Linked DNA regions of Homo sapiens. The protein of the gene in region 1 purifies or fractionates together with the protein of each later gene. This does not show direct contact. Each region holds a gene or a part of one and is shown on either strand. Other genes may lie near its edges.

Region 1 (3,829 bases):
CCTGGGCTTTGAACTGATATCCTATTGCCCAATGGACGTCTCTACCTAAGCATCTTGATTTCAACTTGCTCCAAAATAAACCCAAATACTCTTCCTGTGTTATTCCTAATTAACATACTTAAAATTAACTAGTTTCCCAAACTAAATATATGTGTGCTACCTTTGACTTTTCCATCTTCTCCACCCCTTTATCTAATTAATCATTAAATTTTCTCCTATTCTCTAATGTATCCACATTTCTCTAGCTCCTCTGCTACTAACCTTGGTAAGGATAGCATCACGTCTTGCCTCCTTGCAGCAGGCTTCTATCTGATATCCCTACTATCAATCTTGATCCTTTTAAAACACAAATCTGTCACAAATCCATCTGTTTCCCCGTCTTACAAGATGAATCTCCCTAAATTCTTAACATGATTTCTAAGTCTTTCTTGAGTTAGCCCACTGCTTACCTTTCTAGCCTCCATTCTTTCCTCACTTCCTCTCTCATGCTCTGTTTCAGCCATAATAATGTGCTATGCTCTCTACCCTCTGGGTCCACTGCACATGCTGCTCCCTGTCTGGACCTTGTCTTTAACTGTACCTCCTCTGAGAAACCTCTAATCCCTGCAACCAGATTAGGAGTCCTTCCTGTAATTAACTGTCTGTTCTTCCCTATGTTATAACTGCCAGCTTACTTGTCTATATTCTAAACTAGAATATAAACTCCTCAAGAGCAGGGATGACATTGATCCTGCTCAATCTCCATGAGGGAAGAGATTTATGTATCTTCTTGAGAGTTATGTCTCTAGTTCCTAGGATAACTCCTGGCATATAGCATGCATGTAGGTAATAAATACTTGCTGAATGAATGAGCTTACTTCATATTGTAGTTGTAAAAATTAAAGTAACATGGGAAAAGCAACTAATTCATAGCAAGCACTTATATATATACTATTTGTTACCAAAATTAAAATTTAGCTGTATGCTCTAATAAACTTGTGTATTAGGTTACTGTGGACAAGATGGCTCAATGTGTTGACTTACCATGTGTTGATTATTAGAGATACAATTAGAGGAAAAGGTATGGCCAAATAAAACAGAAGACTGAAATCTAAGAGTGGCATATTTGACAGTATTTCTCTACTTTTCACCTTTGGGTAGTAGAAACAAAAATATCTATACCAAACAAAAAAAAAAAAGCTGAAAACCTAGCAATGAGAGAATGATGAATGAGGAAATCTTTCCAACAGTAGTGTTTCTTTAGTCTGGGTAGAGACTATTTTGACACAGGGGTGGGATACTCAGTTTGTCTCTAGTGCACCAGAAACATAAACATATTACATTTTCCCCTTTTGCTTTTCCTCAGATGCTGGCTTTTCCTTAAAATATATCAAAATACAAAAAACACAATAACCAACCTCTAAATAATTGAGTGCAGTGTGGCCTGATCTACTATATAGCTAAAACACTATAAATTCTATAAACTTGGTGTTTAATTCTTTGTAGCAATAGGCAATGGCTCTAAAATCTTGAACCATGGTACCAGGTTCATTTGTGGGAGTAAAACAGTATGTGTGCCCTTTTACCTATGTTAATAAAAACAGCAGCTTCTAACTAAACTTATTCATTTTACTATTTATAATAAAGGTTACTTTTTTTGGTGGAGGGCTAATACAAAAACAATAAAATCAAACTGATCAGTAAGTAGTCTACTGCATCTTTCAGTAAAGTGAACCAAAGTAATTTGAAAGACGTTAAAAAAACACTATAATGTAACAGTTTAATTAAAACACTTAACCTACTCTAAAATATTTTATTATTTTGTATTTTGTTTGTATGGTACTGATACAAGCTCCGTAAAAAATCAAATTGGATTTACTACTTCTATTACTGCTCTTTGACTAAATAATGTTAACTACTTTTCTAACAGCTTGACTTGGGCCCAAATTTGACTTACCAAAAGTTAGAGAACGAATCCTAGATCACAGAGATACAGGGTGAGCATCCCAAATCTGAAAACTGAAGTCCAAAAGGCTTCAAAATCTGAAACTTTCTAAGTGCTGAGATGATATTCAAAGGAAATGCTCATCGGAGCATTTTGGATTTCAGAATAGGGATGGTCAATCTCTAAGTATATAACGCAAATATTTCAAAATCTGAAAGTATCTGAAACATTTTTGGTCCCAAGCCATTTTGGATAAGGTATACTCAACCTGCAATTCTAATATAACCCATTATTCAATTCCAGTAAAAGAATAGGAACAACTGTTTAAAGCAGTCAGAAAAAAAAAAAAGTTTGGTTTTTGTCACTTTTATTCTTTAATAGTTTACCATACCAATTTTCAATCCTACATTAACTCACACGTTAATTAATTCATTCACTAATTAACCAAGGACTATATCAGGTATAATTCCTCCACGTTAGGCCATATTTCATATCATACTCCTTGCTGTTAGATGGCTCAATGAAAGTATTTGAGGAGCAAAATAAAAAGGGATCTCCTTCAATTAGAGATCTTTTTAGTTTTTAAGAAGCAAAATGTTGCGATAAAACCTGAACTAACAATCAGTAATCTGTAAATTGTCTAGTGTAAAACCTCTCAAAGTGGGTTTTCAAAAAAATAACATTGAATAAACGTGTGGATAGATTTAAGAAGATCAACATCACTTCAGAGAATTAAGACTCCCTGCAAAAAGGGTTTTGGATATAAATACAAGTATGCATTTAACTCAACAATACAATGAAATATCCAATCAGAAAACAAAAAAAATTATGTACATGATCCTGAAATAACTAGATAATTTCTGCCAAATGACAGGGGGCAAAATAAAAGTACAAAAGTTATAAACATATTGGAGAAAATGAAATAGAATTTTCTTACCCAACGATGACTTTACAATTGATTTAATTCCTGCATAAACCAATGATCCTTTGTTGCCTGGAGATTTCTGATCCATATCTTCTGTGTATTGCTTCATAAGTATTTAAATGCATAGGAAATACTAGTGATGCATGACAATATATTTCAAAGCTAAATTTATTTTGATTTGGAGCCAATTCATAATAAGTATCAGTGTAAATAAGGTGGTTCGACTCTATTGCAGAGATACACTTTTCTTCCTCCTACACAATCTACAAAGCAGTATTTCAAGTTCGAAAGTTTAGAACAATTTTACTTTATAATGTTAGTATTATGTAACTTGTATTTGTATATAAAACATTGAGCATATTTACAGACTGACCTTTTGGCAAACTTCAAGAACATTTCTACCTGATTCACCTCACAAAATTCACAATGAAAAGGATATAGTGCAGAGTATACCAGAGTGACTTGAGCTGTGGATCTTCATTTCCAGCTAAAATGTGGTTCCTCCACACCTGCTCTGTATCAAGTCCATACCTTGATAAAGCCCGAAGACGCATCTTCGTTGCTATATCTTTTTCTAAAGAATTATCATTTTCTTCTTCCGTACATTCATATAAATGACGACCACAAGCCCACATTAAAGATGTAATTGGGCTCCAGGCAAGAGATATCCTTTCAAAAACAGTGAAGTCTGACATTGTTCGGTTGGGAGTTACAACTATCATTCGATTTTGACTTGTTGGATGCCACGCAAAGGAAGCAATGTAATTGTCACAAGGTTGCACACTTCTTTCAATTATTGTGGGTTCAGTTTCATCCCCAATGGGAGTGGGTGTATGCTGCATATCATACAATCTAATAATATTACTATCCCTTGTTAAAGTGGCAAGTAGACCAGTCCTAGTGGGACACCATGCTACTTTTGTTAAGGGTTTTGGTTGCTCAGTCAATGTCAAAACTGGCTTCTCAAATTTTCTAAGATC
Region 2 (3,829 bases), on another chromosome or scaffold:
ATTTTCAATTCGCAGTTAATTGAATCCACTGATGCCTACTACAGTAACACACAGAGTCCTCCGTGCCAAGCACTGTGCTCAAAGCTTCACACATCTTGCTTCCTCAGACCCCCTCCAGACCTGTAGGCGCGATACTTCTGTGATCTCCATGTTGCAGATAAGGAACCTGGGCACACGGAGGCTGAGTGACTGCAGGCTCACAGAGCTAGAATGTAGCAGAGCTGGGGTTTCACCCAAGTAACCTGGTTCCAGAGTCCATGCTAGTGGTATGTTAAGGAAGAAAGATCAATCTAGACAGAAAAATATGCATAAACACCACTGCAATGAGGTGAGCCAAAGCACAACTACTAAACAGAAAAGAAAATGAAAGGGCAGTTAGAAAGAGAAGAGAGTTCTTCAGGGCCACAGAAGCCGAGAGGGGAAAGCCAATAAAGAGAGGTCATCATGACCTACAGACTGCTGGCCCCAGGAGACTGGGTTCTTTAGTTTGTTTTTGATTGCCCAGTACCCAGCACAGTATCTATCAAATAAGCGCACAATAAAAGCTTGCTGGATATTGATAAATGAAGGAATGAAATTATATGCACAAGCTGAAGTGACAACCTGCGCTCTGGGTGAGCCGCCTCACTCCCAGCCAGCCTGGGATCTGGCTATGCTCTCCTGCTCCCACGCTTGGCTGGCACCGTTCCAACTTCTCGGAAAGCCCTTCCCAATCCTCGCCCCACAACTGACATCCTACTCTCACTTTAAAATTGACTTCAATAAAATTTTGGCATGTGACAATCGCTTCCTCCTCTAAACTATTCATAATATGGTTGGAAATAATGTGTTAAATGACAATTCCTCCATAATCTTAAACTGTTATTTAAATGTTAATTTCCTTATTTGAGCACATTTTATCTTAAATAGCTCTGCGCTATTCAGAGACACAGAAGTTTCTTATATTTTATCTTATAGTACCCACAAAGTCTATTTACCATGCCTTACACATAATTAGTACTCAGGCAAGCTTTATCAATTTTCAAAAATTCTAATAGAAAACATCCTCTGAGACTCACCAAAGAAAATAACTGGAAACCTATACAGCCCTCCACATTCTTACCTATAAATTTCTGACTAAAAGCTCACATTTAATCAAATATCTGGAACAGTTACAGATGTTACCTGTATCTATAAAACAGAGTATCTTCATGTAAAATTAATGTATGAAAATAAAATTATATCATTAATCTCATTAGCACAATTTCTAAAAAAAGGTTAAGAGTATGAAAAGTACTACTGATCAAAAAAGTGTAAGTTTGAACTGTTTCTAAACAGCGTAAAGCAAAATCAACAGCTTAGTTTTAAGCCTAAAGAGGCCTTTAAGTCCAAAAATTTATTAACTATCCTATAAATCAGCCCTTTTATATTTAAATAAGATGTTTTAATAAAAATAATAGCAAGTTGAGTGCTTCTGTTGGCTTATGCAGAGAAGCCTCAGAACACCAAGGTAGGGCCTGGTAGAGCCCACTTCATACACAGTATGGAATGAATGGAGGATCAAGTGAGGCAACGAGGAGTTGGGATTTGTTCCAGACAGTTTAGCTCATGACCCAACACTCTTGAGGATCAAAAACCAGAACAGATATGCCACAGAATCACAGTCAGCACATTCCTAATTTTCATTAAAATTTGCATTGATACAATCTGAATGCATCTCATTTTGTTTTTAAGGAATATCTTCTAGTATGAAAACCTTAATTTACTATATATGCACTAATCTGCATGGCTAAACTAAGCAGCCAATAATTAAAATAGAAAAAGATAACACAGAATTCTACTTACTTCCCCAGTGGTTGGCCCTTTTTCTTTCTGTTGACAGCGCCTGATCACTTCTAATAATAAGGGTCCACCCACAGTACCTTCTGCTTCAATTATACCTAAATCTCGGGCTAAATTCTCTCGACCTTCGAGACCTTGCAGCTAGAAAAGAAGTTAAAATACAAGTGCACAAAAAAATAGCAGAAGTTATTCTCAAGGAGTAAAGAAGATATTTTCAGAGTTTAAAGACATCTTTAAACTCAAAGAGACTGTCTTACTAATGAATGAAATGTCTATTTTAAAAAATTATGCCTATTTCTTTTACAGAGCCTCTACCTTCAACGTTTCCATTAACAGGTGCACTCTAACATCGTATCAAAATTAACTCTATAGTAACACTTTTATTAGCAAGCTTTCAAGTAACACAAAGCAGCAACACTGGTGCCAGCTATCTGAAAGCTCATATGGCTTTTAAGAAAAACAGATAATCAACTACCAAAAATAATCTAAATGTAAAAAACTATCAGTTGTCAAATTCTATTAACTTTCAGCTTAATATTAACTCATTTGTATCAAAGGTTTCAAAAGATAGATGTAAAAATCATTATTCTTACTGTGCTAGTTTCAGGTTGAAAAACAGCCAAAGTAAAGTCAAGGTTAAAAAACTGAAGAAATTCTGCAACAAGACTAGCCACTAAACGACCTATAAAGATCAAGAAAAAGGTAAGTAAGCAAATCTTCAAAAACTGAATTTTTTAAATTAACATTATGAAATAGATACACTAAATTAATGGAAGAAAGGTTTCTAAATTTTTTAAGTTACAAATTTCCTCTTTGAATAATATGATTAAGTAATGAAAATCTCAATCTCCTGATTTTTTCACTGGGATCATCAGTCTGTAACTAACTGTAAGACAATCATCTCATAGATTTCAGTGTTTCGCTTTTTAATGGTTAATATTGGCTTTTTGTAGTAAAACTGGCTTTAAGCAACAACATCCCAAATCCAAAAATATGTAATAGCAACACGATTGTTGTACAATAAAATATTATTTTAAAATGAGGACCTATAACAATTGAAGACAAAAAAAAAGCCCTGAAATTCCTGATTTCTCCCAAATGGTATCAAGATTCAAAAATTCAGAGATAGATAAACAAGAACAAACTGAACATCTTACCGTCTTTGGTATTTAAAAACTTTTTCAGGCTCTCATTAACTAAAGGAGTTTTGTTCTGTTAAAAAAAAAAAAATTTAAGTGTCATGTGTTTACCCTAAAAACAACTACAAAATATAAAGTTTAACGTTTTCATTGATAAAATTATGGTTTTACAAAATCCATTCTACAACTGTTAATTACTACAGGACTTACTTTGTGCTATTTAGTAATTTCTCAAAGTTAATATAACAAAACCATATATGAAGATTTGTATTTTTAATTTTTAAATGTTTTATAAACTGCTTTTGAAGCTAGATATTTTCAAATACCTGTGTGAAATACAATTAAATGTCAACAACTGTTTATTATTTCAAATACATGAAGTTTGATAAAAGTTTTGTCATCTCAGGTATCTACCATTTATAGCATACTTACTATGAACAGGAATTTAATTATACACTTGTAATTCCCAGTTTATCCATGAAATGTGAGATGATCTTATGCGGCCCATAGGCCAACTTATTTTTGTAATTATACATTTATTTGAATAAGTATGGAAAAAATACTTCTAGACCATCAAGCCTGTGATTGTTGCTGAGAAGAGGCTACAGTAGGTAGCACATGGTAAGCTTCCTTAAGACCACATTAATTGCTGCTACAGTGGCAGCCTCATACACTGCTGATGGGAATGCAAAATGGCATAACGAGTTTGGACAGCAATTTGGTAGTGTTTCTTAAAAGTCACAAATATTCCTAGCATGTGACCTAGTCACTTCACCTCTACATATTTTCTCAAGAGAAATCACAGATCCAAGCAAAGACTTGTATGTGACTGTTCACAGAAACCTTATTTGTAATACTCAAAAACTGGA

What was found.
Region 2: the proteins of MIOS (region 1) and CEP43 purify together in Homo sapiens (affinity purification with mass spectrometry, with the first as the bait; one large-scale study listed by BioGRID). This does not show direct contact.

Annotation. Positions count from the first base shown.
Region 1 is NC_000007.14:7,573,229-7,577,057, reverse strand, and holds part of MIOS (GATOR2 complex protein MIOS), read right to left. Parts: coding exon 3,289-3,829; intron 2,961-3,288; coding exon 2,862-2,960; intron 1-2,861. UniProt on the Homo sapiens protein: As a component of the GATOR2 complex, functions as an activator of the amino acid-sensing branch of the mTORC1 signaling pathway. The GATOR2 complex indirectly activates mTORC1 through the inhibition of the GATOR1 subcomplex.
Region 2 is NC_000006.12:167,002,397-167,006,225, reverse strand, and holds part of CEP43 (centrosomal protein 43), read right to left. Parts: intron 3,034-3,829; coding exon 2,979-3,033; intron 2,504-2,978; coding exon 2,415-2,503; intron 1,963-2,414; coding exon 1,825-1,962; intron 1-1,824. UniProt on the Homo sapiens protein: Required for anchoring microtubules to the centrosomes. Required for ciliation.